2 separate regions of the Homo sapiens genome follow, and region 1 is linked to region 2. The links come from fine-mapping of genetic effects on gene expression. A gene starts in region 2. The other region holds a variant in brackets. All regions are shown on one strand. Distances are from middle to middle.

Region 1 (15,374 bases), 170 kb before region 2:
ATGGGAGGGAGGGAGGAGGTGATGAGAGGGAGGGAGGAGGGGTGACAGGAGGAAGGGAGGAGGAGATGGGAGGGAGGAGGAGATGGGAGGGAGGAGGAGATGGGAGGGAGGAGGAGATGGGAGGGAGGAGATGGGAGGGAGGAGGAGGAGATGGGAGGGAGGGAGGAGGAGATGGGAGGGAGGGAGGGGGAAATGGGAGAGAGGGAGGAGAGAGGGAGGAGGAGGGGAAGGGAAGAGAAAGAGGGAAGATAGGTGGAGGGAGAAGGGAGGGGGGCAAATAGGAAGGGGACTGAGGAGGACACAGGGAGAAGCTGGGAACTAACCCTTCCTGAAGATGTGCTAAAGGCTGAGGTAGGCACTTTACATATTTTAGTCCCATCCCATGTTACAAATGGGGAAACTGAGGCTGAGAAAAACTCAGATATTATCATATATTCTGTGACCGTGACAGAGGTGGGTGTGAATGAAGGCCAGCCCTCTTATGTCACCAAGGCATCCCTCTAACTCACAGAGGAGTCCCAGTATCGGTGGTGCCACCTTTCAGCCAGCTGGCCTGGCAACTATGAGAGCCCGGGACACAAAGGCCCTTACAACCCTGTGCTGTTTTAAGCCACTTATAACCTAGAGAAGGGTGCAAAGGAGGTAGAAGAGCGGGAAGAGGGCAGTGGCAACGGGATGCCCACCTCTGGCTCGCCTGGGAGAAGAGGGACGGCTGCCAGGGCCCCACCGGTGAGAGGCTGACCGCGCATTCTAAAGCACTGGACTTGGCTTCATGTCACAGATATTTCCCATAAATACCCATCACCCACACCTTTCTGCCTGAACTTTCTTTTTTCTGGCCCAGGAGGGGGCTGCCCAAGGCTCTACACCCCTGGGGGCCCATCTGTTTGGCCCCTTCACCACAATTGGTTTGGTAGGTTTATCCCCAAGTCCTCTGGAAAAAAGAAAAGCTGATTATAAAATGCACTCAGCATTATTTTCAATCTGCAAAATACAATCTATCCCATGGAGCTTACCCCTGAGTCTCCACATGCTGTCACATAGTCCAAATCAAGTATCTCATCAGCAAATCCCGACAGCACCCACTGCGAGAGCGCATGCTCACAGCGAAGGAGGCTTCCTGCCCATGCGGGGAGTGGAAGCATTCTCTGGAATACTTTCCCTGGGCCCTTAAAGTGGCTTTTTGGATTGGAAAGTCACAGTCTACTTTGCACATATCCTGAAGATGCTCTCCACCTCTCCAAACATGGAACCTGGAATGTGCTTCCCTGGGCCACCTTTCCTTCCTTTCTCGTGCCTTCCTGCACTTCTGGGAGCCGGAAGGCACAGTGCAGAGACAAAAAAAAAAATGGCTGTGGGAGAGAGGGTTGGGGATGCCACCACAAGGAGGCCAGCTGCACCAGGGGCCACTGTGGGACATTCTGGAGCAGAGCTCAGGAATCCCATGGTGCCCTGACCCCTTCAGCACCTGGCAGGAGCTGGCCAGACACTGGGCCCATTTCCTGAGCCCCTGCCCAGACTGGAATCTACTGGGACTAAAAAGCACTCTCTCTGGGCTCCCTGGAGGAAGGCAGAGGCCCTTCATTTTTCTCTCTCTACCCCAGACCCCAGTGTACAATAAAACCACCAGTAACTGCTCTGCAAATGATCAAATATAATTATTATGTTTATTTGAAGTGAGATGATGGAAAAGATGGCCTGGCTGATTTTGGACCGAGTGGCCCATCACGATACCTGAACAAGCAGTTGTGAGGGTGGGCCTGGCACACCCCTGGATGTTTACAGGAGCATCTGGTCCAGTCCTGTCTTATGGCTGTGCCCAGCTCCAGCTCTGGAAGAGTCTCTCTGAGGAGCAGGGCCTGGAGCTGGGCCTGCAAAGCCAGAGCTACCACTAGAAGAAGGGCTGGGCTGGAGCAGGGCCAGGAAAGGAGACCTGTCCAGGGGACAAGGTGCACGCAGCCTTCAGGTGCAGCCAGAACCTGCCGGCAGACCCCAGGCCACCGACGAGGCAGGCCTCACCAGGAATGACACCTGGTGTCTGAGGTGACCTTTTATTCCCCTAGGTGCATGCCATCTTTTTAAGTGAGAAGTTTTCTAAAGCAAAGAATAAGCATCTACATCTTACAAAAAAACAAAAAAAGGAAAAGAAGGGATCCTATAACAAAAAGCACTTCCTTCTTCTAGAAGGAATTCTGAGTCTCAAATAAAGAGAAGATCTTCTTTTAATATCGTTTTTCTATGTAAGAGGAGCAGACGTTATTATTCATGACTATCAATCAATCTGCATATGTAATTATAATTGCAATGCAATACATATGAATATAATTTTTTTTTTTTTTTGAGACGGAGTCTCGCTTTGTCACCCAGGCTGCAGTGGCTCGACCTCGGCTCACTGCAAGCTCCACCTCCCGGGTTCACGCCATTCTCCTGCCTCAGCCTCTCCGAGTAGCTGGGACTACAGGCGCCCGCCACCACGCCCGGCTAATTTTTTGTATTTTTTAGTAGAGACAGGGTTTCACCGTGGTCTCGAACTCCTGACCTCGTGATCCGCCCGCCTCGGCCTCCCAAAGTGCTGGGATTACAAGCGTGAGCCACCGCGCCCGGCCATGAATATAATTTATATGGACAAGATTCACTTTAACCTAAGTGTTTCCACTAATTCTACTAATAGGTTTTTAAATAAGTTTACTATCTTGTGTTCCCACACAGAAGACTTTTCTTTGCTCTCAGAAGCATTTGTTTACAAACACCATTGGCTTTCCCTTCAATTCAGAGAAAACGCCCTGTCCAAGTGGCACAGTGACATCATCATCATCCATGAGTCAAACCACCTGTCCTTTTTAGGCATTTCTCTGCGTCATTTACAGCAGTTCACCATAGACAAAAATGTTGTATCTGAAAAAAGACAATAGAACAGGAAGCTGAAAAAGATACTTTTACAATAAAAACACATTCTAAAAAAATGATTTTTGTCTAATTACATTTGGAATTGGAATTTGCTTCTATCACAGACCAGTCACCAGTCCTCAGTCCATAAAATCAGCACTTCCAGAGGAAGGTTCCAGGCATCACAGTGCACATCGAGAAATATCAGACTTTAAAGTGCTCTGAAAATGAATTGATTCAAAGAAATAATATGGAATATATTAACTGCTGAATTCTACTGGTGACAGAATGAGTTGAGGCTACTATAATTTAGAATAACCTTAAAAACAGATACATTTTAAAAAGTGTTCCAAAAGAAAAATACTGTACTTGAAGGTATTCTCGCAGTGCTGAAGGCTCACACTAGTGTATTTCCAGAGGTGACAGTTTTAATAGTCATATTGGAGACGCTTAGTGACCTGTGAGCCATGGGTTGCTCCCCTAAGCTACACTGCAATAAACTCTAAGCTCCTCTAGAAGTAATATCTATTTACATGTGAAGATTTCAAATTCTCAGGTATACATGAGTGCACTGTCAGAAGATGATTAGGCCCAGACCTGTGAAGACACAAACAGATAGTTTTTAGACCTTTGTAGTTAACAACTTATAAAACTTGAGCTTAAAGAGATAAAATTAGTCTATTCACACACATGCATGGGCATACATATATGTGTGTGTACACACACACACACACAAACATACACACTCCATCCAAAATAGGGTGCTCATGTGCCTTAGAAGGATAACACTGTACTCCTAGCAATGCAAAGGTGCTTCTTTGGACCTGATCTTCTCCTCCCTTAGTTAATTGTCTGTGGGGCATCTGCAGCCTCCTTACGGGCCTAGCTACTCTTCCAGATTGACAACCAAAACCATTTGAACCCATACAGCTCACCATATACATTAACATGACTACTCACTTAGGACACTCTTACCCAGGAAGATGAACTCACAGATAACTTTTTTATTTGTTTCAGGAATTTTGCAAAAATCCTTTTCTCTATCCTAACACTAGACTACTCAACTTACCCTCTTTAGAAAACACACCCATGTCTCAGGACAATATAGAGCATCAAATGACTATTTAGTTTTAAAGGGTTTGTTCGAAACCCTCCCCCACCCCTGCATCCAGCAATCCTAAAACTATTATGCCACAAAGTTGTCCAATCCTAATTAAGTGCCCCCCAACAAAGACCTGCCTTAAACCAGACCAAAAAAACCTCATGCATGCCTTTGTCATCCTCTTCTGAGATGCCACTACACCTCTACCAATTCTTGATGTTCCACACTGAGGTAAGCAATAAATTTAGCTTTGCTCTATGAATGGGCTACTTTTTTTTTTTTTTTTTGAGACAGAGTCTTGCTCTGTTGCCCAGCCTGGAGTGCAGTGGGATGATCTTGGCTCACTGCAACCTCTGCCTCCTGGGTTCAAGCGATTCTCCAGCCTCAGCCTCCCGAGTAGCCGGGACTACAGGTGCATGCCACCACGCCTGGCTGATTTTTGTATTTTTAGTAGAGACAGGGTTTCACCATGTTGCCCAGGCTGGTCTGGAACTCCTGACCTCAAGTGATCCGCCTGACTTGGCCTCCCAAAGTGCTACAATTACAGGCATAAGCCACCATGCCCAGCTTAAACAGGCTATTTTGGTAGTATTTTGGGTGAGCCAACACTCAACAAGGTTATGGAGCTCTCTTTGAGAATTTAATGAAAGCCACGAGGACAAAAGGCATACACCCCAAATTTGGCATATAATTTCAGGGGCTTCATTTCCAAGATTAAGCTATAGAAAAACCAAAAAAAAAAAAAAAAAAAAAAGGAAGAAAAAAGTAATAATTTCAGGGGCTTCACAGCCTCCTGGATTTGTGACCCTTGTCATCACAAGGTCAATAATCGTAATAAGAACCCTATACTATAGGAGGAGAGACTGGTTATCTGTGGTTTGCCAAAGGCTAGAATCACAAGAATCAGACTTTTAGGGTCAAAAGGAACTTTCTGGATGATCAAGCCTAACTATTCCCTCACCTACAGGCTGATACGCAGTTGTCGAATCTGTGCGAGAATACCTGCACTGATGCAGCACTCGCTACCTCTCCAGGCAACCCATTCCCTCTGTGGCTGTGGGCAGAGTGGAAATGAGAGCTCGGCGAGGCTGACCAGGCCCACCTGAGCTTACTCTGATAGCCTTCCCTCTGCTTCAGAAGGCCTGTCACCAGTCCTCTCTCCTCTCACACACAGGAAAACAGAAAACCATCCCTCTTACTCTGAGGGTATGATCCCATGATCCAGAGCAGAAAGCAGTCCCATCGGGGGAAACTCGTAGAGTGCTAACGCGGTTTTCATGTCCAAACAGGATGGAGACCCGGGACCCTTTGAGAACATCCCAGACGTTGATAGTGTAATCATTGTATCCAGCAAACAGCAGGCGACCTTGAAGCAGGGTGAGATGATAGCTGTTAAGCCAGTTCCTTGCTTCCTGTTTCTCATTACATGACTGTTACTCACTCATTCAGTAAGCAGTGATTCAGGCGCACTGAGTCCTAGGCACTGTGCTTTGCCTCAAGGATTCAAAGGGGAGAAAGCACAGTCCCTGTCCCTGTTGGAGGATGTGGGGCTGAAAGGAACAGATCACTGTAGCATCCCATGGTAACAGCCATAATGCAAGTGCTTTACACACGTAAAGTGCTATGGGACCAGAGAGGAAGGGGGATTAAGGAGGGCACTGCAGACACAAGTAAATTATTTTTAGTCATTTGCTAGTTAACAACTTGTAAAACTTGTTTAAAGAGAGAAAGTTAAAGTGACATTTGAGTTGGCTCTTGAGGGTTGAATCGGAGTCTGTCATGCAGAGAAGGCAGGGAAAAGATGTTCCAGGCAGTAGCAGGAACTTCACGTGCAGTTAGTCTAGGGATGTGTCTGGGGAAATGGAGTGGTCCAGGTAGCCAGCCTGTTACCTCTGCTTTAACTTTCTATTTTTCTTTCTTTTTTTGACATGATCCTTCTGGAGCTATGCTTTTTCACCAGCAGCTTCCCACAAAGGAGCCATGAGCTTCAAGGCACTGAGAAGGGACTCATTTTTTTTTTCCCTTTGAGTCAGAGTCTCGCTCTGTTGCCCAGGGTGGAGTGCAGTGGCACGATCTCAGCTCACTGCAAGCTCCATTTTCCAGGTTCAAGCGATTCTCCTGCCTCAGCCTCCTGAGTAGCTGGGATTACAGGCATGCGCCACCATGCCCAACCAATTTTTGTATTTTTATTAGAGACAAGGTTTCACCATGTTGGCCAGGCTGGTTTTGAACTCCTGACCTCAAGTGATCGCCTGTCTCGGCCTCCCAAAGTGCTGGGATTACAGGCGTGAGCCACAGTATCCCACCAAGAAGGGACTCTTGCTTCACCTCCACCTTACAGAAAAGTTCCCTTTGGGGCATGAAGAGAAGCAAAGGCTGGGGAGAAAATGCCTGAGAGCATTGTGGAAGTGAATTTCTGACACTTCATTGCCTTGAAGGACAGCATTAGGTGGGTACACAGCCTTCATTTCCCCCTGGAGTGAAGTTGCCTGGGGCAGGACAAAGTGGGAGGTCAGAAGCTCAGAGGAGGAAAACTGGTGCAAATATGGATGATTTCGCATACTGGTCCACAGGAAGCTCAGTTGATGAAAAGGAACTGAGCGATGATGGAGCGCTAGTTTCATTCTGGTCCTGTCTTACAGTCCTGGGAAAAGTTTCTGAAATAAAATCTTACCACTGAGGGAGAAGTCCACGCTGGATGCTCCAAATATGATGCTTTCTTTGGAATAGATGGCAACCTCCCTATCTGCCCGCAGGTCATAGAGGCGACACTGGGGAGCAAATAAATAAAGAAGCACTTACTTCTGGCTTCAGTTTGGTGACGTGATGACCACAGAGCTACAGGTAGGTGCTAGTGACTTGCGTAGTTTAAAAGATGAAGGAAAAACTTCTTAGTTTTCCCTACTGTTATTTCATCCTTTAGTCCCGACTCCTGTTAATTTCTATGAGTCAGTAAAGAGTCCTGATTCCTATTAATCTCTATGAGTCAGTAAAGAAACGGCAAATACAGCAAATTTCTTCAGGTATAAAAACAAAATGAGACCCCACTTTTTTTTCTGATAAAGGACACATGTTCACTGTAGAAAATTTGGAAATATTCAAAAATGTAAACAGAAGGAAATGAAGGTCACCCTAAATCCTAGAGGTATTTACTAATTCTCAGCTGTTTCCTTCAGTCTTATTTGTATTTTATGTGTGTATCTGAATGGGTTGGATGTTTCATTATTGCTTTTATTAACATTAGGTTATACGTCCTTTCTCATATCATTAAAAGAGAACTTCAAAAAACATTATGTACATAGTTATTGAATATATCAGAATCTATTTAGCCAAACCCTGTTGTTTTGGTTGTGTTTAATTTTTCTTTTTTATAAATAATATTATGATGACTATTCTTATATAAAAATCTTTACATGTGTTTCTGGTTTCCTTAGACTAGGTTTCCTTAGACTAGGTTAAGAAATAGAATCCTTAGAAGAGTTATCAGGAAATAGCATGACCAGATCAGAAGTAGAGATGTTTTATTGTATATTTTATTTTGAAATGGAATTTCGCTCGTCACCCAGGCTGGAGTGCAATGGCGCTATCTTGGCTCACTGCAACCTCTGCCTCCCCAGGGTTCAAACGATTCTCCTGCCTAAGCCTCCTGAGTAGCTGGGATTACAGGTGACCGCCACCACGCCTGGCTAATTTTTGTATTTTTAGTAGAGATGGGGTTTCACCACATTGGCCAGGCTGGTCTTGAACTCCTGACCTCAGGTGATCCACCCACCTTGGCCTCCCACAGTGCTGGGATTACAGGCATGAACCACCGTGCCTGGCCAAGTAGAGATGTTTTCAAGCTCTTGATTCATATGGCAAATCTGCCCTCTAGGAGGGTGGTGCCAACTATCCTGACCCCAGGGTTGATCCAGGCTCCCCATCAACCCAACCTCTGGGCATTTCTTTGCTAATCCTAGTGGCAAAATGGGCATCCGATGACTTAAAACTTAAAACATGCAATTCTTTGATTATAGGTGACTTTGAAAATATTTTCAGGTGTTTACTTGCCATTGTGGATTCACTGCTTTGTAAATGACCTGCATTTTACCCTCTTCTTTAATTGGAGTGTTCATTTTATTGTTTATGTAACTCCATTCGTATCTACAGGATTTCAACTTGGTCTGTACTGTATGTGGCAAGAATTTTTCCATATATATTTGTTATAATTATATTTTGTTATAATTTTGTTACAATATATTTCCATATATATTTTGTTATGTATCTTTGATATACAGAAGTTTTAAATTTTCATTATTTCAAAACTCTCAATCTATTCTTTTGTAATTTGTTTAGCAGAAAATTAGAATGAAAACCATTACTTCATAAGATATTTGATATTTTGAAGGCAACAAGAAAATATTTTTTTCTCTTGAAAATAATTTGGCAATCAGTATCAAAAGCCTTAAAACTGGGTCTATTTATGGCTCAGCAAGTTATGTCTGAGAATGCTAAGGAAATGATGAGAGGTACAAAAACACTTATAGTAGTGTTTTTAACA[GA/G]AAAAAAAAAAAACCTTGAGAAAAGCCAAATGTCCAAAAATTGAAGACGAATGTCACGTTCATAACATGGAATACTACTCAATCACTAAGAAAATATAATGGAGAGAAATATTTACCAGCCTGGGAAAATGTTCACATTCTGTTAAGTGAAAATGCCAAATTATAAAGCATTTTGTTTGTTAAAAAGAAAAAAAGACAGAAAGGAATTCATCCAACTATGATTTTTCTTGGGTAAGGAGATCAAGGTAATTTAATATTCCCCTAAATTTTCTTTATTGAATACTCGTTACTTCTGTAACCAGAAAAATAGTTATTTTCTTAAAATAAGTTAGCAGATCCCTCTATTGACTAGGAAAAGCTCTCAAAAACTTAGAAACATACCGTAGCGTCATCTGACCCTGAAGCAAAGGCATCTCCACTGGGGTAGTACCTGCAGAGAGAAAGTACTTTATCTACGGTTGTGACTCCTGACCCTGGATGCCCATCAGAACCATGCTAGGCCCTTGGAATCAGAATCTCTATTTCTAGGGACTCAAGGAACATTTGCAGCAGAAGACGGAAGAGGAAGCTCCTATGTCAGGCCCACTGATCTCTAGTTTTCTTCCCTGTTAGTGGGGGACAGTGACACTGGCCTTGCAGAGTGAGATAATATGTGTTGATATCAGGCACAGAACACAGAGTAGACCCCCTATAAATATAGTTTCCCTCAATCACATATCTAATTCCTAAGACTTGGCCCAGAGCTCAGGGATAAGAAAGTGGTTATGAGCACAGACACTGAATCAGACGCACAAAGCCACATTGGATGTCTGCACTGACCATTTACTACCTGCGATACTTTTGGCAAATGACTTCCTCTTGCCCAGCCTCAGTTTCCTCATCTGAAAAGTGAGAGTAATAATGCATATTTTCTGCTGTGAAGATTACATAAGACAGTCCATGCAAAGAATCTGGCATGGTGCCAATTAAATCACATTCAATAAATGATAATTATTACTGCTATAGTCATTGTCTTCTCAATGATTAGTGAGAAATATGGGCCCTAAATTATAAGCCAGAGGCAGAATGAGAGCAAATGTCTTTAAACCCCTCCGCTCTGCCTCACCCAGCTGTGTTCCCCACACCTTCCATTGTTTCTCCTTTTTTTTTTTTTTTTTTTGAGACTGAGTCTCATTCTGTTGCCCAGGCTGGAGTGCAATGGCGTGAACTTGGCTCACTACAACCTCCACCTCCTAGGTTCAAGCGATTCTCATGCCTCAGCCTCCCAAGTAGCTGGGATTACAGGTGTATGCCACTATGCCTGGCTAATTTTTGTATTTTTAGTAGAGACGGGGTTTCACCATGTTGGTCAGGCTAGTCTTGAACTCCTGACCTCAAGTGATCCACCTTCCTAGGCCTCCCAAAGTGCTGGGATTACAGGCGTGAGTCACCGCACCCACGCTGTTTCTCCTTTCTCGTACCAGTGACCTACCCTATAGTTCCACAAAAGCCGCAGGAGGAGGAGTCCTTTTAAAACATTATTTATTCCTCCTACCAGCGGGAGGTGAGAGTCAAAACATTTGGCAAAGGAGAGGGAAGCTTGACTTTGTGTGACTAACTTACATTGGCCTGAAAGACGGGGATGGAGAATTGAAAAGCTGGATGACAGATGTTAACCATTTTCAGCTCTGCCCCAGTCAGTCCATCACAGTGTGGGCACATTATATTTTTGAAAGCATTATGAATTCATGGAGTATCTGACGCATCCATATTCCAATGTCAAAATGATTTCTAGATTAAATACCATTTGGGGCCACATGGGCTATGATTTCCTTCTGCTGGTAGGAAGTTCAGGGACCAAGTGTATTATCTTCCAGGTAATACATAGATTATCTGGAAGAGACCTTTTGTGCCCCCAGTGTCCCCTCTCTCTGTCTCCTATAGCTATGGTTAAATAAAAGCAGGATTTTTTGAATGGCACTAAACCCAGGGGGTGCTACTGGAATTCAGTGGCTAGGCCATAGGGATGGTAAATGTCTTACATGGAACATTCCCTTACAATGAAGAAATGTCCTTCCCAAAATGCTAATACTGAACCCCATTGAGAAACACTAGTTCGTTTTGTTTTGTTTTTCCTGGGCAGGTGGCAGAATGAAAACTATATTTCTAGTCTTCCTGTAGCCAGATGTGGCCATGTGATCATGTTCTGGCTAATGGGATGCAGGCAGAAGTGATAAGCGCAACTCTCCTCTACCAACCAGCTGGAAAGAAGGCATGGTGGTAGGCCAGTGGGGGCAGGAGACTGAGCACCATCCTAGGAAATGGGTTGCGAAGACAGAATGAGCTATCGTAGCAGCTCAGATTTTAAGGTGAGAACAAACTCCCATCTGGTTTAAGTCACTGTGATTTGGGCTTCTCTCATACAAGCCCATGTCCTAATTAATTCAGTGTATAACCAAGGGCATGCTAAGAGAATAATGACAACGCTCAGTATAACCTCAGCCTTGGGTGGACATGGTAGCCAGTGTTCGCCCTGGAAGAAAATCAAAAGGCACCCTGAACATGGCCCACTGAATCAGTCCCTGTAGCATCCGTCACAGAAGTCTCAGCGTCAGTTTACACCATTCCATAAAATAACTTAATTGAAACTGCATTCACTGTATATAGAAAAATGGCCATTTAAAATTTTAAGTTACAGTGTTCCCTATCAATCAAGAATTGGGTTTATGTCTCCATTTATCAACATCTTCTTTTATTTCTGCCATTAAGAATTCATAAATACTTTAAAAAGTTTGGTTACCACCATAACATTTTCTCTCTGTCTCTCTCTCTGACTTCCTCAGTGCAGGAGATCGATGAGTAAACTGGCCATGCAGTGTGGTCTCCCTCACACAGGAGGGCACCTAACTCAGCCCTGGAAACCAGGGGGGCTTTCTGGACAGAGGGAAGCCTAAGTTGAAAACTGATGGTCAAAGGAGGTTAGAAGCAAAGGGTTCAGGGGAGATGAAACAGCTCAGGTGAGAGAGTGTGCATTTTATTTTATTATTTTTGAGAAGGGGTCTCGCTCTACTGCCCAGGCTGGAGTGCAGTGGCACGATCTCAGCTCACTGCAACCTCTGCCTGCTGGGTTCAAGCGATTCTTGTGCCTTAGCCTCCCAAGTAGCTGGTATTACAGTCATGTGCCACCACATTTGGCTAATTTTTGTATTTTTGGTAGAGACGGGGTTTCACCATGTTGGCCAGGCTAGTCTCAAACTCCTGACCTAAAGTGATCCGCCCACCTCGGCCTCCCAAAGTGCTGGGATTACAGGCGTGAGCCACGGTGCCCAGCTGAGTGTGTGCATTTTAAAGCTGTACATTGGCCCTCCATAGCCATGGATTCCACACTCATGGATAAAATCAACTGCAGATTAAAAATATTCTAAAAAAGAAAAAGGAATGTTGCATCTGTACTGAACCTTTTTTCTTGTCATTATTCTCCAAACAATACAGTCTAATAACTATTTACATCGCATTTACACTTACTAGATATTGTAAGTAATTGAGAGATGATTTAAAGTACACGGGAGAATGTGCATAGGCTATATGCAAATACTATACCACTTTAATTTTATTATTTATTTATTTTTATAACTTCAGCATACCCTGAGAAAATACTACATCATTTTATGTAGGATTCTGGTATCTGAGGGAGGTCCTGGAACCAATCTCCCACAGATACCAAGGAATGACTGTACTTTATTAATACACAGGGGCTTATTTTTGTGGCTTTATCTTCTATCTTGCATTTTACTAACTTCAATTACTATCTGTAGTAATTTTCAGATTGATTTCTTTTGATTTTCTAGGTAATTACTGCACAGTTACAATAAGTGAGTCTTTTTTTCTTTTTTCCTTATCCCACATTTGAGGGCAAGAAGTACTAAAGTAAGCAAGTATTCTTTTTTGTTCTTGTTTTTAAGAGAAATAATTCTCGTGTTTTCCCACTAAGTATAATGAAGATTCTTGGGAGTTCTGAGTATAATGAAAATACTTTATAAACTGTCTCAACAGTACCATCTTTCATACGTGGCAAGTCCTGACCTCTCTCTTGGGATCTAATTCATGGATCCTGCCACTTACTTGACATCTTGAATGTTTAACAGGCATCTCAAACCTAATTAGCCCCCAAAAGAACTCCTAAATCCATGTGCAAAGCCCACCTCCTCCCGCTATCCCTCCAGTCTTCCCTGTCTTAGTAAATGGACTGCTGCTTGCTGCCCTCGATAAAAGATGTGGGTTCCCTAAGCTCAGGGTTCTTCTATAGTGCATCCCTTGCATCTGCCAGTGTCATTTGGCCCTTTTCATGTCTCCCTGTGGAACTAGGGCTCAAGTATGCACAAACAGGCTGATAGCCTGGCTACTGCCATTGCTGTGAGTAATAAACTGTCCTTCATCTCTGACCCAGGAGTCTTGTGTCTTCTACCAGCATCCATGAGCTATGACAGCCCAACTTGTTAACTTGTAGGTAGATAAAATCTCAGATATTTCATAATTCTTGACATTTCTCTGTCTCCACCATGTCTTCCTTAGTTCCAGTCACCATCATTTCTTTCTTGAACTCACACAACCACCTCTAACTGGTCATCATATTTCCATTCTTGTTCCCTACAATGTATTCTCCATACAGCCAGTGATCTTTTTTGTTTGTTTGGGTTTTTTTTTTTTTTTTTGAGACACGGTCTTGCTCTGTTGCCTAGGCTGGAGTGCAATGGCACCATCTCGGCTCACTGTAGCCTCAATCTCCTGGGTTCAATCGATCCTCCCACTTCAGCCTCCTCCACACATCACCATGCCCTGCTAATTTTTTTTTTTTTTTTGGTAGAGACAGGGTTGAGCCATGTTGCCTAGCCTTGTCTCGAACTCCTGGGCTCAAGCAATCTGCCCGCCTCAGCTTCCCAACAGAGCGATCTTTTAAAGGCAAAACATGATCAGGTTAGCCACCCCTACCCCTCCCAACTCAAAACTCTCCAGTGACCACCTGGCCTTTTGTTAGGTCCCTTAACCTCTCATCTCTGTGCTCTTCCCCCAGCTCTTTGCTTGCCTGGCTCTTTCATGATCCTGGCCTCAATGTAAAGATCACCTTCTCAGTGAGGCTGTCTTTGACCTCTAAGAAATGACCCATCCCATCTCCCTGTTTTACTTTTATCATAGTAGTTATCAGTATCTGAAATTGTATATTTGTGTTTGGTCTAGTTTGTCTCCTGTAAGAGAATAGAGACCTTGTCCATCTTGTTCACTGATATATTCCCAGTTCCTAGAATAATATCTAGCATATAAATACTTAATAAATATTTATTGAATGAATGGATGAAAAATGCTGATTCAACTTAGGGAGGATATTAATTGCTCCTAATGTAATTAAATTAAAATTCTCCATGAGTTCTGGAGCACTGTTCAGTTCCACCACAATCAGCCTTTCTTCCCGGGGAGGCCTCTCTCAGCCAAGTAAACTGAGTCTGGAGGCGGTTCCTGGGCTAAGGATTACCCAAGCCAGGCAATGCCGGCAGAACAGAGAGGTGGCATGAACATTCTACTCACTGACCGGACACTGTTGATGTCAGATTCATGTGTTTCAAAGGCCTGCACGCACTGGCCGGAGCGCATGTCCCACACCATGGCTTTCTTGTCACATCCCTACAAATGAAAATTAGCCAGAGTTATGGCCACTTTAAGGAATGTCTATAGACAAGGCACGAGTCCCAGTTATATAACACAGACCATTTATTTCCCATTAGCAAATGGTTGACAACACACTTTTCTGAGACTAGCTTTACCTGAGGGCACTTTCCTTAGTCAGAAAGCCCTTAGACGCCTAGAACTAGGTCTTGGGATGGGAGGCAGGAGGGAAGGCACTCGGCTTCCTCTTTTAGCTTGTTTTCTTCTTTTGCACATTTCTGAATGGAGGCAAACCCTCCTTACCCTCCCCCGGGCATCTCCCTTCCTTTCATTTTTCCTTCTTTTCTCTCTTCTCTTTATACTTGCCTCCCTAAGCCCAGAGGGCAAGGCAGGCAGGCAGTGGTGTGTGGTGGGACCTCTCTAGTTGTGACATTAATAAATGGGTTGGCAGTGCCCAAATGGAGCAGCCGAGAGTCCCAGCTTTGTTTTGGTGTATGGGGCAGCCCTCAGCAAAGCTGGAGAGCCAGGTGCCCCGGGCCATCTGCACCCTCAGCAGCATGCTGGGCTGGGAATCTGCAAACCAGGGGCCCATAAGGGTGCTGCCATCGACGCGCAGGGTGGCTTAGGCAAGTCACCTCCCTGGGCGTCTGCCTCAACACCTATAAAGTCAATGCTCTCTTCAGGTTGCTAACATGACCCAGAAGGTCACAGACATGAGGGTTTTTCCATTATCCTATCAAGGCTCTGGGAGTAGTTTGATAAGTTCCTGCAGAGTGGTCATGTTATCAAGCTTAAGTAGTAGAATGTGGACTCTCAATAGTCAAATAGCTTATATGATCAAACAGCTAAAAAGTAACAGCTTAAAACTGGTGTCTAAGTTGTTGGTTTCAACTTGGAGCAGAGGGAGGTGTGTAATGAAGCACCATCACACATCTGAGGAAGGCCCGCTGTGGGAGTTCAGCATCCCGAGTGTCTTTACTGAAAATGTGGGCAAAGAAACCAGAAAGGCCTTCACATCTTTAGAGGACACTCAATTGGATGCAGTTTAGTGCTCTGAAAGAGACAATATGATCTACAGTAATAGCAGTAATTTTTTAAAAACACAGTAGAGTTGAGGAGAGATAAATACAGTGATACCAAGGCACAGGGTTGAAACATCTACACATGGCCAAATACCCAGGAAGAAAATCAGGGTCCCTGCTAACTAC
Region 2 (15,374 bases):
ATTGGAATTCCTGTGGGTGGGGCCCGGCAAGAGAAAAGCTTTGAAAATCAACCCCCACATGGGTTTTGAGGAAGAGCCAGGCCTGGGCAACCAGCATTCTGGCCAATTTCCTGCTCAGGCCTCACCCTCTTTTCAATCCACCCTCTGCCTGTGGCCACCCAAAACCACTAGCACTTTCTGGAACATGGCAGGCCTTCTTTGGCTTTCTGCTGTGTACTTCTGTTCCTTCCACCCTAGCCCCACCCATCCTCTCCCCATCCAAGAGCAAACAGCTCTGAACAGTCTGGAGTAGCTGGAGACACTCCTCATCTTGGCACTCTCCTTGCCACTTGCCATCTAGCAGAGCTGGATGCTTCCCTTGAGCGCTCTCTGCTCCTCCCCCAGGTATCTAGGCTGCCTCCCATCTCCCCCACTGGCATTTGAACTTTAAGAGCCTGGTCTTTGTGCTTGGAATCCAATGCAAAGGCTTCCCATAACTAGCACTCCATAAACAACTTTTGAACAAAAATTCAAATTCCCAGTGGTTCAGTTGCACCAATTAAAGACTAAGTATTTCAGTCTTTTCATCCCTTTTTTTCTCTTTGAACTACCCATACATAATACAATGGATACATTTAATTTTCCAGAGTTGTTAATGGTATATAGAAGTCTAAAAACTATTTAGAATTAGCCAAATTAAAAAAAAAATCGTTACGCTGAACTTTGACCTCATTTTAGACAGGGGCCCTGGACTGCTAGTCAAGACACTTCTTTTGACCTTGCACATCTGAGTTTCAGCAGAACTTTGAAGATATTTGTGAGTTCCTCTTGCACAAGTGAAAGAAACAGATGGTGGAATGACTGTAGTGAACCTGTCACTACACAGTCATAACCTGAGTTCTAATTAATGAGCAAGAGCAACCTTTAGGAAAAAAAAAAAAAAAAGGTCTCCAGAGGCATGCCACAGAGCTCTACCGCCTCCCCTTTCATTCAACACTTTCACCAGTATCGTAGATGAAAAAACAAAACACATGTATCAAACAAGCAGATGAAATGATTGATTAGCTAAAGATGATCAAGATTCAAAAGGTTTTTACAAGCTACAGAAACGCTGGGCACTAAACAAAACAGAAAATTTTATAGGGATAAATGTAAAGTCTGTATTTAGGTAAAAAAAATCAACTGTATTATAATAGCATCAGTATTTGAGTAATCTTTATTAAGCATTATGTGTCAGGTGCTGTGCTAAGGATTTTACACGCCATTAATCCTCATAGTGACCTCCTCAGCTGGTAAGCATGATTCAGTCCATTATACTGGTGTGGAAACTCAGGTTAAGTAACTTGCCTGGTGTCACCCAGTTAGTAAGGGGCAGGACCAGGACTTGATTTGACCCACCAGGGGCAGAGCATGTACCAGCTCTGCTTAAAGCACTAACATAATGCCAGGATACACTGAGGGATGCTCACAAGAAGTTGCACCGTACTCATGGCTGAGCAGATCAAGGCTAGAGAATAGTGCCACTAAAATGGGCATCAAGGTGTGAAAATTCACCCAGAGGAAGGTGGCCTGGATGCTGAGGGTCTGGAATGATGCTGTCAGAGAAATGGTTGGTGGCACTGTCACTCTCCTCAAGCCGTCTGTCCTACCCACCCTTCCTGCTCAGCAGCTGTCAAGCTCTCTGGGCTTTCTTCCTTCTCTGTCAGTATCTCTGTGCCTTCAACTCCTGCCACTGTGGCCTCAGGCCCTCACTCCTTTCTGAGGTTAACCCATGCCTGGTGCCTTTCTTATGTCTTCAAACTGCAGTCCTCTGCTGGTTTCCTCCCTTTCACGGGTCATGTCAGACTTTCCCTTTCCCCTTCACAGTTCTACCCAAACAGAAACGACGCCAGGGACCAAAACTAGCGGCCAAACCTAACAACCCATCCCCAGCCTTCATCCTTGTTGACTTCTCTGCAGCTACTAGAAAGAAAGACCGTCCAATCTTTAGGCAGTGATATGTGTGGTCTTTTTTCTTTGTTTGCATATTTTATGTTTTTTTTTTTTTTTTTTTTTTTTTGAGACAGGGTCTCGCTCTGTCGCCCAGGCTGGAGTGCAGCGGCGCGATCTCGGCTCACTGCAAGCTTCGCCTCCCGGGTTCACGCCATTCTCCTGCCTCAGCCTCCTGAGTAGCTGGGACTACAGGCGCCTGCCACCACGCCTGGCTAATTTTTTTGTATTTTTAGTAGAGACGGGGTTTCACCGTGTTAGCCAGGATGGTCTCGACCTCCTGACCTCGTGATCCGCCCGCCTCGGCCTCCCAAAGTGCTGGGATTACAGGCGTGAGCCACCGCACCCGGCCGCATATTTTATATTTATCTTCATACAGTATATAAACTGTTGTGCCCCATTTTTCACATAACCATGTTTTCATGTTATGAACTCTTCAGAAATAGTACTTTTAATGGCTTCATGCTGTTTTACCATGTGAATCTTCCATAATTTACTTAACTTTACCCCTCTTGCTGGACACTGGGATTGGTTCCAATTTAGTTATTATAAGGAAAAATACAAATAAGCAGGTGTCAGGAGAGGTAGGTAGAAAGTGGATGAACTTCTCACAAGCCCACTGTGTGCGGGGAAAAGGTCAGATCCCTTGAAGAAGAGGAAGATAATAAAGGCGGTTGAACCAAGGTGGTGGTAGTGAGAGACACTAAGAACATAGGTTTTCAACTCCGGCTCCATCACTTGTATGTTACCTTAGCAACTTACCTGACCTGAGCCATTTCTAAAAGTGTGAGATCATCTAACACACAGAGTTGTTTATCCAGATTAAATGAGAGGCGGCACATGAAACTCTGAGGATGGCATCTAGCACATAGAGATAAAAATAACATCATCCATATCATCGTCTCCATGGTCCTAGCTATTTCTGTAAGCAAAAACGTTCAGTCATGCACACAGGTGCACATCAAACATTTATGAAGCTCCCACTGTCCCCTGCTCACTGAAAGCTCTTGGTCAATAGTGGAGACACAGAGTTCACGAGCTGTTACCAGGCAATATGGAAGGCACCGTGTGGAGGGGCTAGCTGCAGAGGCTTTCTCAGAAGAGGTCCTGCTCAAATTGAAGGTGGAAGGTGCAGGTGCCATGAGCAAAGGTGACAGACAGAGGCTCAGACAGGTGGAGTTCGTGTGCCAAGGCACGCAGTGGCAACGTGCAAGCAAGGCATTGAGGGAATGGCAAGGAGTCTGGCAGAGCATGAGCCAGGTAAGAGCAGGAAGGCAGGGAGAGAGGCAGGACCTCGTGGCTGGTCAGTGAGTCTGAAAGCAATGGGAGCCTCTAGAGGTGGTAGAGCAGAGAATGCCAGACCGGCTCTTCTTAAGAGAGATTTCAAATAGGGGAACTGCTGCTCTGAACATTTCTAAGGCATGGCACCTGTAGCTTTTCAAAAGAGATGGATGATTTTACACCTCACCTGGCAGCGATTGCTCCCCTCACCAAGACTTCTCCTGGAGTTCCCTCTTCCCTGTTCCCACAGGGTGGCTTCCAGCTCCCCTGTTAGCTCCTCCTCTGGATGGCTCCATCTCAGCCCTTCTGCTTCCTCTCACTCCTTGCACAGATGCATTCCCCGCTGGCCTGTCCCTCACCCTCTTCTCTGTCTGCCTTCTCCCACCTTGGTGAGACCCTCAGTGTCTTGTTGGCTTCAGTGACCACCTCTGGGCAGAAGACCCTCGGCAGGGCCCATCCCCTCCCTCTGACACCTCCCACCCTGCAAGGCACCTTCCCTTGGAAGCCCCCTCACCCCTTCAACCCCTGCAAATACAGAACTTGCCTGATGACTTTCTTAAGAAATATTTCCTCCTCATGCCACATCCTTAATTCACTCAAGGGCACCACCCTGCTGTCTCTCATACAGACTCTAACCTCAAATGTCATCCTTGGCTGGTCCCTTCAACCCCCACCCCACTCCCCAGTCCAGCCTCTCAGCCTCACCTGCCTCCACCCTCCATGGCCAACACTGCAGCTCTAATTCTTTTCCAACAGCTGGAATGACCTGAGAATTCAGCTACGTGACCCCGGCCTCTCTCCTCCACAGCCCAAGGGCGCTGCTGGCATACATAACAAATCTAACAGTCCTAACACACCACCCTTGATTCTGCCAGCCCCCACTCAAAACCCACACTGGGGAATAAAGCCCTGACCTCGCTCTCTGGCTGCCATGGCCCTCCCCTTCACACCTCCAGAACAGACAAAATGGGGGCTAACTGCCCACCAGGAAGGGAGGTGGCAGCCTAGGAACACAGGTGTCTACGTGGACACAAGGTCAGTGGGAATGGCCATCAGGCTGCGTCAGTCTCTGGGATTCTCAGATTCTCATTCCCTCCAAGCTTGTACCTTTAAACTCCTTCCTATCAGTTTTCTTACATTGTGCCTGGTACTTACTAGACATTTAATAAATATCTGAGGTTTGAGGCACCTAAAAATAGGGGTGCTTGCACCTGTGTGTTTCTGCTTCTGGAAATACTGTCACCTCAAATAGGTTCAGCAGCAGCATTTTTCTCTGTCCTCCAAAGTATCGTCGAAGACTAGTCCAAGACTTTTCTTTCACTTCCAGTAAACTGAAGGCTGAAGAAGCGCTGTTGGCTGTCTGAGGGCTCACAGTCTCACTGGTGAAAATATTCTAGAACAAAACTAGGGCAATTCAAACACTGTCCATTTAGAACTCCAGTTAATGGAGATGCAATAGAGGAGAAACTACAGTTCGGTTGCTTTGTGTCCGGACTGTTACTAAGTAATCAAAGTAGAAGAAAAACGTTTGCTTAAACCATTGAAACATGATTTTTTAAATAACTATCTTTTCTATCTACAGCAAAAGCATCTTTTAAAGTAGAAAGCTAGAGCATGTGTCCGGGGAAATGGATGGATTCTAGTTCCACTCGTCTGAATACTGAGGTCTCTAGATTTCCCCAACTGGTGTATAGGAGGATCAGGCTTTATGGCTATTCAAATGGATTTTTTTTTTCAAAAGTGCTAACACTGTCACACTCTTTATCCAAATAATTACCCAAGCCCATCTCAGAGGGTTTGGGACATATGTGGGAACGCTGCCCTTCCGAGGTAAGAGGTGGAGCCCCAGCCAGCAGAAAGGAAGCTTCTGAGGAATGCTCTAGTGTTTCCCAGAGTCAGGGTATATGAAAGGCGCTTTAGAAACTGTGGTGTTTGTACTGTTGCTAACAGTACAGATGTTAGGCAAAGAGCCTACGACTGCACCTCGTGGCCCCTGGGCTCCCCAAGCGCTTGGTGCCACTGCAGTGCCCTCAAGCCTGTGACCCAGGCTGCTTCAGCTTCTGATGAGCCTACATGCACGTTCACGCACTTTGAAGACACAGAATTCTAGAAAGCAGCCCGAACACTGCGGCCATAAGCTTCTATGCCAGCTCGTTCAAGGGGGTCCCAGGAGGGGCCAGGAGACTGGCCGGCGTCTCAGCTTCCTACGTCCGCATGGGCAACTCTGATTCCACCCGTGGTGTGGTAGGAAGGGACCGAGGCGCTCCAGTCCCGGGAGATGGGGACGCACGCGCGACCCCTGGGCACTGGGGATTCTAGGCCCCGAGGCCGGAGCGGCGGAGGGGGCGGCCCCTCCCACAGGGTCTTCCCACCCACAGGGCACCCAGGCGCAGCGGAGCCAGGAGGGGGCTTACCCGCGGGCAGGGACGGAGCACGCCGGGGCCCTGGAGGGGCGACGCTCGCTCGTGTCCCCGGTCCCCGTGGCCCCTCCGCGGCGCCTCCGCGGCCCCCAGCGCGCGCCCGCCCGCCCTGCCGTGTCAGGTGCGCAGGTGTGGCAGGTGTGGCCCGGGCGCCAGGTCGAGTCAGCGTTAGCAGGGCCGGCTCCCCCACAGCGCTCCCAGGAGCCCAGCGGACCCTCCTACCTGCGTGTACAGCTCGGCCACCGCCATGGGCAGGAGGGGCCGGGGCCAGGCCGGGGCTGCCGAACGTGCGAGGCTCGGGGGCTGGGCCTGCGCCGCAGAGGCCGGGCGCAGGAGAGACCGCCGCGGAAATCACCGCCGGGCCATCTTGCCCAAAGTTTTCCAACGGCCTCCTGTTCCCGTTCCCGAGTTGGCGGCGAGGGGAGGGGGCAGCGGCGGGATTGGTCCCTCCAAGCTTGGCCCGGCTAGTCGGCGCTGCCATTGGCCGGGGCCGGGCGGCTGCACCTGGCGGGAGCGCGGGTGGAGAAGGTTGGGGCCCGGGGCGCGCTGCCAGGCAGGAACAGATGCATCCGGAGGCTGCCCGGCCCGAGTGTTAGCTCCTCAAAGAGCAGAGGATACGACCATTTAAATGGAAGACCCAAGGGAATCAACGTACTGAACACAAAGAAATGTGTTAAGAGTCCAGCAAGGTCATCGTATTCAAAATCAAATACAAAAATAAGTAATGGTCCTTTATATGAGCATTGTCTATGCAATACAAGATATTTACAATATTAGTGAAAATATAAAGTATCCAGAGATTACACTCGCAAAAATGCCCTTGGCCTTTGTGGAGAAAATGTTTAAAATTCTCTTAAAGAGCTTAAAAGAAGGCCCAGGTAAACGGGAGACATGCCATTTTCCTGGCTGGGAATATTTAATATGGTCAAGGTGTCACTTCTACCCAAATCAATATATATGCCTAATATATTGGCGTCAGAATCCTACAGAACTTTTGGAGAATTGTACAATGATTCTATATTTCATATAGAATAAAAGCCCTGTATAACTAAGACAATTCTCAAAGAGGAGAGATTTGTCCTGCCATATATTTAGGGACATAACAAAGCAGTAGTCATTAAAACAGTGTGACACTTGCGTGAGAACGGATACGTGAGTAATGGAACATGCTGGAGCCCCCCAGCAGGGCCCTACATTATACGGTAGCCTTAAGGACCAGATAGGGAAATAAAATAATATTTATTAGATGGGCCCGTTATATGGAAAAACAATAAAAGCAGATCCGTGGCAAACACTGCATCCAAAAATAAGCTCCAGATGGATTCACGATTAAAACTTAAAACCGGGAAATTATTAGGAATAAAAGAGGGATAATATCTTTAAAATGTTGGGTTATAGTAGTTTCCATATAGAAGAATTGTTAATCGGTTAAAGAAAAGAAATCCAATTTTTAAAACTGACAAAAATTAATAGGCAATTCACAGATGGGGACACTTAAATGGCTTGTTAGCATACAAGGAGATGTCAACTTTAGCAGTAATCAGATAAATACAAATGAAAACAACAATGAGATATTGCTTTTTACCCATCATATTGGCAAAAACATTTAGGTTAGACAATCTCAGATACTGCCTAGGATGTGAGAAAATAAAAACTTGGCCGGGCGCGGTGGCTCACGCCTGTAATCCCAGCACTTTGGGAGGCCGAGGCGGGCGGATCACGAGGTCAGGAGATCGAGACCATCCTGGCTAACACGGTGAAACCCCGTCTCTACTAAAAATACAAAAAATTAGCCGGGCGAGGTGGCGGGCGCCTGTAGTCCCAGCTACTCGGGAGGCTGAGGCAGGAGAATGGCGTGAACCCCAGGGGGCGGAGCCTGCAGTGAGCCGAGATTGCGCCACTGCACTCCAGCCTGGGCGACAGAGCGAGACTCCGTCTCAAAAAAAAAAAAAAAATAAATAAAAAAAATAAAAACTTTTTTTGCTTACATAACTGGTGGGAATATACTGCCATCCTGGAGAGCAATTTGAGAATAGTTATGAAAATAAATGTAGGCAGAAAAATTCTCACAGTCACCCAAAGAGACAGTTAAGTAGATGTTCATCACAACATAGTTATTTATCAAAGAGTTGGAAGCATCTAAATATCAATAGGGGAATAAATAAAATAGTATATACATGGCAGACAGCAGAGAAAAATAAAAAAAGAAATAGTATATACATGTAAAACTCTACAGCTGTTAGTAGGAATAGACATGATCTACTTGACTCAGAAATAAAAAACAATGTTGAATAGATGTCTAGCCCAAGTCTTTAATATTTAAAAACTCACAAAAACTGCAATACTGAATATTGTTCATGGGTACAAGTATGTGTGAATAGAGGTAAGGAGGATAAATTACAAAGTCATTCATTAAATATGCAAGAGTGGATACCTATGAGGGAGAGAAATGGAATCGGAGATTTCAAAAAGGGGATCAAAAAATATAAAGAGAGGCCTGGCATGGATCAATAATGATAAATGCCACAAAGAGAGGATCATGGTAAATTTAATTTTGCATTTATTTATATACAAAATTATTTATATTATTGCCCAAATAATTCTATTTTGTATAAAGAAAAAGAAAATCTATAAGGTGAGTAGTGACAGCTGCCTGATTGCTCAGAGTTAAAAAGAGAATCTAGCTGCCTTTTTTATTTAAAGAAAATTTTTATTGAAGAATAAAATTATATACAGAAAAGTGTGCAAATAATAAGTGTACAGCTCAATATATTCTTATTCATGGAACACATCAACACACCAAAGTAACCACCGCCCAGATCCAGACGTAGAACATTACCGATATCCCAAAACTTTCTCTGTTTCTTCAAATCATTTTCTCTCAAAGATAACCACTGTTCTGATTTGTATCACCATAGATGCGTTTTACCTGTTTTGGATGTTTTTAATAAATGGAATCACATGTGTAACTCTTGCATTTGGCTTTTTACATGGTATTTATTCATCTTGTTGCATGTAGCTGCGGTTTGAGGTCTTTCATTCCTGTCTAGTAGTATTCCATTGTATAAATATTCTACAATTTATTCATTCTCCTATTGATAAATATTTCGGTTGCTTCAGTTTACACCCACTATGAATAATGCTGCTATGAACATTTTATATGTGTCTTTTGATGCACAAATATATGTATTTTTGTTGGGCACATAAACAGAGCAGAATTGCTGGATCACAGGTATGTAATGCTCAACTTTAACGGATAATGCTAAAGAGATTTGTAAAAAATTGTTATATCAATGTATACTTCTACCAGCAGTGTGTGAGACTTTTAGTTGCTTAATATCCTCACCACTTGATGTGGTCAGTTTAAAAAATAGCCTTTCTGATGAGTGTGTTATGATGTCTCACTGTGGGTCCAAGTTGCATTTATTTCTATGATGACTATTGACCACTTTGGTATTCTCTTTTGTGAAATGTCTGTTCAAGTCCACTTGAACTGCTATTTAAACAGATTTTCAACCAATTCCTGTGTTTTCAGCTGCATGCCACTTTCAGTGTTACCTGCTGCCTCTGAACCTAATTCCTGAGCTTTTCGGAATTATGTAGTGCAAACTGGATTGCTTCTGGGCTTCTGCCTGTCCCGGGTTAGGTTTCAGTTTTCTTTGCTTGTGAAAATAAAAGACATTTATCCATCTGTTTTTCATCTTCCAAGCTGTTGCTGTCATTCCTCATTCATTCTGTTTTCCTTTGTGAGTTTATTGTTACTTACCGGAGTTTCAGGAGGAAGGTTGAGTAAATACAGGTATTGAATCTACCATCTTTAAACATTTTGATCACAAACCCTTTACCGATATATGGTTTGCAAATATTTTCTCCCACTATATGGATTGTCTTTTCATTTTCTTCATGGTGTCTTAGGCAGCACAAAAACTTTAAATTTGGGGGAAGTCCAATTTATCATTTTTTAATTTTGTGGATCATGCTTTTGGTGTTGTTATCTAATAAATTTTTGCCTAGCTTAAGCTCATAAAGATTCTCTTCTAGATGTGTTATAGTTAGAACTCTGACATTTAGGATATGGAATTTTTTTTTTTTTTTTTTTTGAGACAGAGTTTAGCTCTTGTTGCCCAGGCTGGAGTGCAATGGCGTGATCTCGCCTCGGCCTCCCAAAGTGCTGGGATTACAGGCGTGAGCCACCACACCTGACACCTGGCCATTTTATTTATTTCTTTTTCTTTTTTTTTTTTTTTTTTTTTTTTTTTAGAGATGGAGTCTTGCTATGTTGCTGTGGAGGAAAAGTTAAATATCAAATTGAACATGGACACAAACAATGGTCACCAAGTCCCAGAATAGGTTGTGTGAGCCCCTTAAGGCATTCATCCAGCACTTTTTTGGAGAAATCCCCATTTCAATCTATTCCTATACGTTAGTTATTGAAAAACAACAATTGCAAAAAAAAAAGTTGACTTTTTGGGTTCCTTGAGCCCAGTCGCAAAGGGCCTCCTGATTGGGCCTCATGCCAAACAACTTGTTACAAAAAGAGCTTGGGTCCCAGACTGCACTGAAGCTTCATGAGACCTCTCCTCATCTACACCAGTGAGTGGCCGACTCTGGAGCCCAGGCTGTTGCTTACGGGTCTGGTGGTGAATTCTCCATAGTCTGGTGAGTGTAAATATATATATATATCTTATCCTTTCTCCCCTTCCCATTGCAATTTGCTTATTATATCAATTTGCTTATTATATCATCTGCTTATTATTATCTGCATTGCCATTTACATGGGATAAAGTTGTTTACCCTTAAAAGTATTGTGTGTGCCTTCTCCCCTCGCAGGTCTCCCACACAGAACAGTTGCCCAGGTTGGTCTTGAACCCCTGGACTCTAGTGATCTTCCTTCCTCAGCTTCTCAAGTAGCTGGGATTACAGGCATGCACCACTGTGCCTGTTTTTGTTGTTGTTGTTGTTTGTTTTTGTTTTTCTTAAATCCAGTCTGATAATCTCTGCCTTTTTATTGGGGTGTGTAATCCATTCACATTTCTTGTAGTCTTTGATATGGTTGGATTTATGTCTGCCATTTGTTGTTTTCTATATGGCACATGTATTTTTCTCCCTCTGTTTCCCCTTTCTTGAATTTTTTGGTGATAGTTTTTATTAAGTGCATAATTTAAATTTCCCCCCTAAAAAGAACTCTATTTCTTGAGTTAACTTTTCAGTGATTCTTTAGGGATTAAGTAACATTCCATTATATTAATCAATTAATGAATATTTGGGTTGTTCCCACCTTTTGGCTATTAGGAGTAATGTTGCTATAAACATTTATGTACAAGTTTTTGTATGAACATATATGTCTTCATTTCTCTTGGGTATTTCCAGGAGTGGAATTGCTGGGTCATAGGGTAACTCTGTTCTTTAACTGTTGGGGGAACTACTAGATTGTTTTCCAGAGTGGCTGCACCATTTTACATTTCTACCAGCAGTGCCTGAGAGTTCTGATTTCTCCACATCCTTGCCAATTCATGTTATTACCTGACTTTTTGGTTCTAGGCATTTTGGTGGGTGTGAAGTAGTATCTCACTGTGGCTTTCATATGCATTTCCCTCATGCCAGGCATCTGCATCTTTTCATGTGCTTTTGTGTATCTTCTTTGGAGAAATGTCTATTTAGATCCTTTGTTCATTTTAAAATTGTCTTTTTATTATTAAGTAATAAGAGTTCTTTATATATTCTAGATACGACTCCATTATCAGATATATGATTTGCAAATATTTCTACCTATTATACAGGTTGCCTTTTCATTTTCTCGACAGTGTTCACTGAAGCACAAAAGTTTTCAATTGTGATGAAGTTCGGTTTATTTTTTCTTTTGTTATTTGTGCTTTTGGTGTCATATCTAAGAATCCCTTTGTCAATCGAAAGTCAAGAAGATTTATCCTTTTGTTTTCTTCTAAGTTTTATAGTTTTAGCTCTTACATTTAGGCCTGTGACCCATTTTGAGTTTTTGTTTGTTTTGTTTGTTTGAGACAAGGTCTCTCTCTGTTACCCAGGCTGGAGCACAGTGGTATGATCATAGCTCACTGCAGCCTCAAATTCCTGGGCTCAAGTGATTCTTCTCTTTGGCCTCTGTAGTATCTAGAACTTCAGGTGCATGCCACCATGCCTAGATAAATTTTTTTTGTAGAAATGGGGTCACTACATTGCCAAGGCTAGTTTTAAACTCCTGGCCTCAAGTGATCCTTGTACCTTGGCCTCCCAAAACACTAGGATTATAGATGTGAGCCACTGCATCCAGCAGAGTTTTGTTTGTTTTTTGTATATGGTATGAGATAAAGGCCTAACTTTATTATTTTGCATTAGCTATTCAGTTGTGTCAACATTATTTGTTGAAAAGACTATTCTTTCCCCATCGAATGGTTATGGCACTCTTGTTGAAATCAATTGATCATAAACACATAGGTTTATTTCCCTACTCTAAATTATATTCCACTGATGTCTATGTCTATCTTTACTTTCAGTGCCAGATGGTCTAGTTTGCTGTTGCTTTGTAGTAAGCCTTGAAATTAGAGTCATCCAACTTTGCTATTGTTTTTCAAGAGTGTTCTGGCTATTTGGTGTCCCTTGCAATTCCACCTGAATTTTAGAATCACCTTGTAGACAACATATAGTTGGGTCTTGTGTTTTGATCCACTCTGACAATCTGTCTTTTAATTTGTGTACTTAGACCATGGACATTTACACAGACTACTGATAGATTTGGATTAATATCTACCATATTTGTTACTGTTCTATTTGTTGCCCTTGGTCTTGTTTCTATTTTTTGTCTTCCACTCTTTTTTCTGCCATTTGTGGTTTTAATTGAGCATTTAATGTGATTCAGTTTTTTCTCTTTTCTTAGCATATTAATTACACTTCTATTTTTACTTTTTATAGTGGTTGCCCTGGAGTTTGCAATACACATTGATAACGAATCCATGCCCATCTTCACAGAACATGATATCACTTTACAGTGTATAAGGTACAGTACAAGTACCTTATAATATCAAAAGGTTCCTATTCCTCCCTCCTGTTCTTTGTATTGTTGTTGTCATTCATCAAATGTATTCTTTAATCATAGTTTCCTTTAGTTCTTTGAATATATTTATAATGGCTGATCTGAAATCTTTGTTAATCTAACACCTTGTTATTCTTATAAGCAGTTTCTGTTGCCTGATTTTTTTTTCTGCTTATAAGTCATACTTTCCTGTTTCTTTGCATGTCTTGTAATTTTTTGGTTATAATCAAGATATTTCTGATAATGTAGTAGCTCTGCATACTGGTCCTTGTTTTTGTAAATAAACTGGGCTTATTTATGTTTTAGTGACCAGCTGGCTTATTTCAATAAGATCTATTTGGCCCTCCTCCACTACTCCATAGTGGGAAGCCTCTGATGCTGCTTCTCAGGCAGTGTAGCCTGCTAAACCTGGGATGACAGTGGTTTTGGCTAGCTTCACTTTGACTGTGTTAACATTCAGCTGTTAAACTCCACCAATTACGATTTTCAACAATGCTATAAGGAACACATTGTTTCACAGACAGTATCTGATCAATTTTGGGCTCCTTTGAAAGGATAGTTCTTGAGGTCAATGTTTGAGACTTGTTCTGATCCTGCAAGGACTCCTCCTGGCTGTCTCTTCTCCCAGTTCTCTCCAGGAAAGTTATAGCCTAAAGTTCAGCCGATAACTCTAATGAATCTACCAATCCCCTCCCAATCCCCAGTCACTGCAACCTTCACTGTTTTTGAAACGCCCTTAGGCTTGAACTTCTCCACACTCTTTTGCAAATGAAGTCAGTTCCTTTAGGAAGTAATTTGGAGCTTTCTGTTTTACAGCCTGCTTCTGCTCCTGGTGAAAATCTCTGAGCCATTGTTCTGGAGCTGGGGATGAGGACAATGGCTTGCATCTCTTTGAGTGATGGGAGCCAAATGCTCGGTGGATGGGGGATAGTGGCCTTAGGTCTTTTTGGTTGGCCTTTCCCAGGATGAGAGCACCACCTTAAAAGCCTGAACAAGATGCACTGGGGTCCCAGTATTTTCAGCAGTGATGTCCCCAAGGTAGAGCCTGTGAGCCATGAGTAGGGGCTGGGTAGAAGGGACCCCCCCCACCTGTTGACTGCATTTATTTGAAACTTAGCTTAAGCAAGAGGTGGCTGGGAGCAGGATGAGAAGTGCTGACATCCTGCCCCTCCCAGGAAGACAGCCCTCCAACTGTGAGCTGGCAGAGAGGAAGCCCTGAGTTCTTGGCTATACCAGTCTAGAGTGGAGTTTTTGTCTCATTGACCTGGAAGATGGAAGGAGGGAGGAATCTTGGTTCAGATACAACAAGCTCATTCTCTTTATCAAGCTTTAGTATGTTTTCTTGAATAAGCACTTCTTCATTTGGTGTATGCCCTTAGGACCATTTCTAGAGACTTTAAAGAATTGGGGGTTTGGTTTGTTTTTAAAATAATTCTCACTGGTTTCACTGGTTTCCCTTGGGAGTTGTCTGCAAAGCTCCTCATGCTATCATGTCAGAAGTGGAATTCCTAAAAGCTACTTTTGAAATGTGAGAAATATTTCTCCTGTTGTATTTAATGTCAACTCAAGAATGGTTTTCCATGGGCTTTTGGCCTGTCTTTCTTTGCCCATCTCACTTCTGTTGACCAACCCCATTCCTACCTGTATTTTCCTCCCTCCCTTCTGTTTTCATGAGGTTGTTTTTAACAGCTTCTTACTTCCCTCCAAAAGGAGCCCCATTCTTTTGCACAGTAATCACCATCCTAGCTAGGGTCATCCTAGACACAGGCCATTCAGCCCGGAGACCTATTTTTCGCAGACCATGGGTGTACATGTGAAAAGAAACCATTTGTCTTCCTAGATTATAACCTGAAGATTTGATACAACCCAGATCTTCTCAGTAGAAATTTTTTTTGGTCACAAGTAGCATTGACCAAACTCTCTTCAAATTCATTTAGCTTTCTTGATAATATAGACTCTTAGGAAATGAGCTTCAGATATACATGGTTGACAACATAAACTAGTATTTTCTTTCTTTTCCAGTAACTGCTGAAGTTTCAAAATGTCTGTTTACCATATTTAAGTTTTGGTAAGTAGTTCATGTTTTCCTTATCTGTGCCAAGCATAATTTTTTTTTCTTTTATTTTGAGATGGAGTCTCACTCTGTTGCCCAGGCTGGAGTGCAGTGGCGCAATCTCGGCTCACTGCAAGCTCCGCCTCCCAGGTTCATGCCATTCTCCTGCCTCAGCCTCCTGAGTAGCTGGGACTACAGGCGCCCGCCACCACGCCCGGCTAATTTTTTGTATTATTTAGTAGAGACGGGGTTTCACCATGTTAGCCAGGATGGTTTTGATCTCCTGACCTCATGATCTGCCCGCCTCGGCCTCCCAAAGTGCTGGGATTACAGGTGTGAACCACTGCACCTGGCCCAACCAAGCATAATTTTTTAGCACTTGCCCACATTCTTACCTTCTTGGCATTCATTTCTCTAGGCCCAATTGTCTCAGGACTTTCAAACCATTCTTATGAGTAGTATCCTTTTCCTTCAGTTATCTCTTATTCTCTTCTGAACCTCTTATATTCCCTTGTGTTTTGTTTGAAACCCAATGACCAGAACTGCCCATAGCTGGCCAACATGGTGCTAACGAGGTCTGTATGGCAGGTTTTATTTCTCTCCTTTT

What was found. PIP is the estimated chance that this variant, and not a neighbour inherited with it, causes the effect. A credible set is the group of variants that fine-mapping cannot tell apart.
Region 1: its variant is the best candidate, but not a certain one, in a credible set for the expression of MYO5C in regulatory T cells (Bossini-Castillo 2019, PIP 0.62).

Annotation. Positions count from the first base shown.
Region 1 is chr15:52,119,286-52,134,659 of GRCh38, forward strand. It overlaps GNB5 (G protein subunit beta 5), which reads right to left. Exons shown (of 13, transcript NM_016194.4): 9 at 14,093-14,184; 10 at 8,911-8,959; 11 at 6,663-6,759; 12 at 5,188-5,354; 13 at 1-3,483. The coding sequence ends at 3,472. Among named protein-coding and RNA genes, the nearest start is that of BCL2L10, 14 kb to the left of the region's middle. The variant GA/G (reference allele first, on the strand shown) is at 8,529.
Region 2 is chr15:52,289,719-52,305,092 of GRCh38, forward strand. It overlaps MYO5C (myosin VC), which reads right to left and starts at 6,086. Exons shown (of 41, transcript NM_018728.4): 1 at 5,892-6,086. The coding sequence starts at 5,918. LOC105370819 (a long non-coding RNA gene) reads left to right here and starts at 5,166. Exons shown (of 4, transcript XR_932250.3): 1 at 5,166-5,493; 2 at 10,156-10,328; 3 at 12,594-12,678; 4 at 14,737-14,782. RefSeq lists enhancers at 3,216-3,265, 4,139-4,308 and a silencer at 5,750-5,909.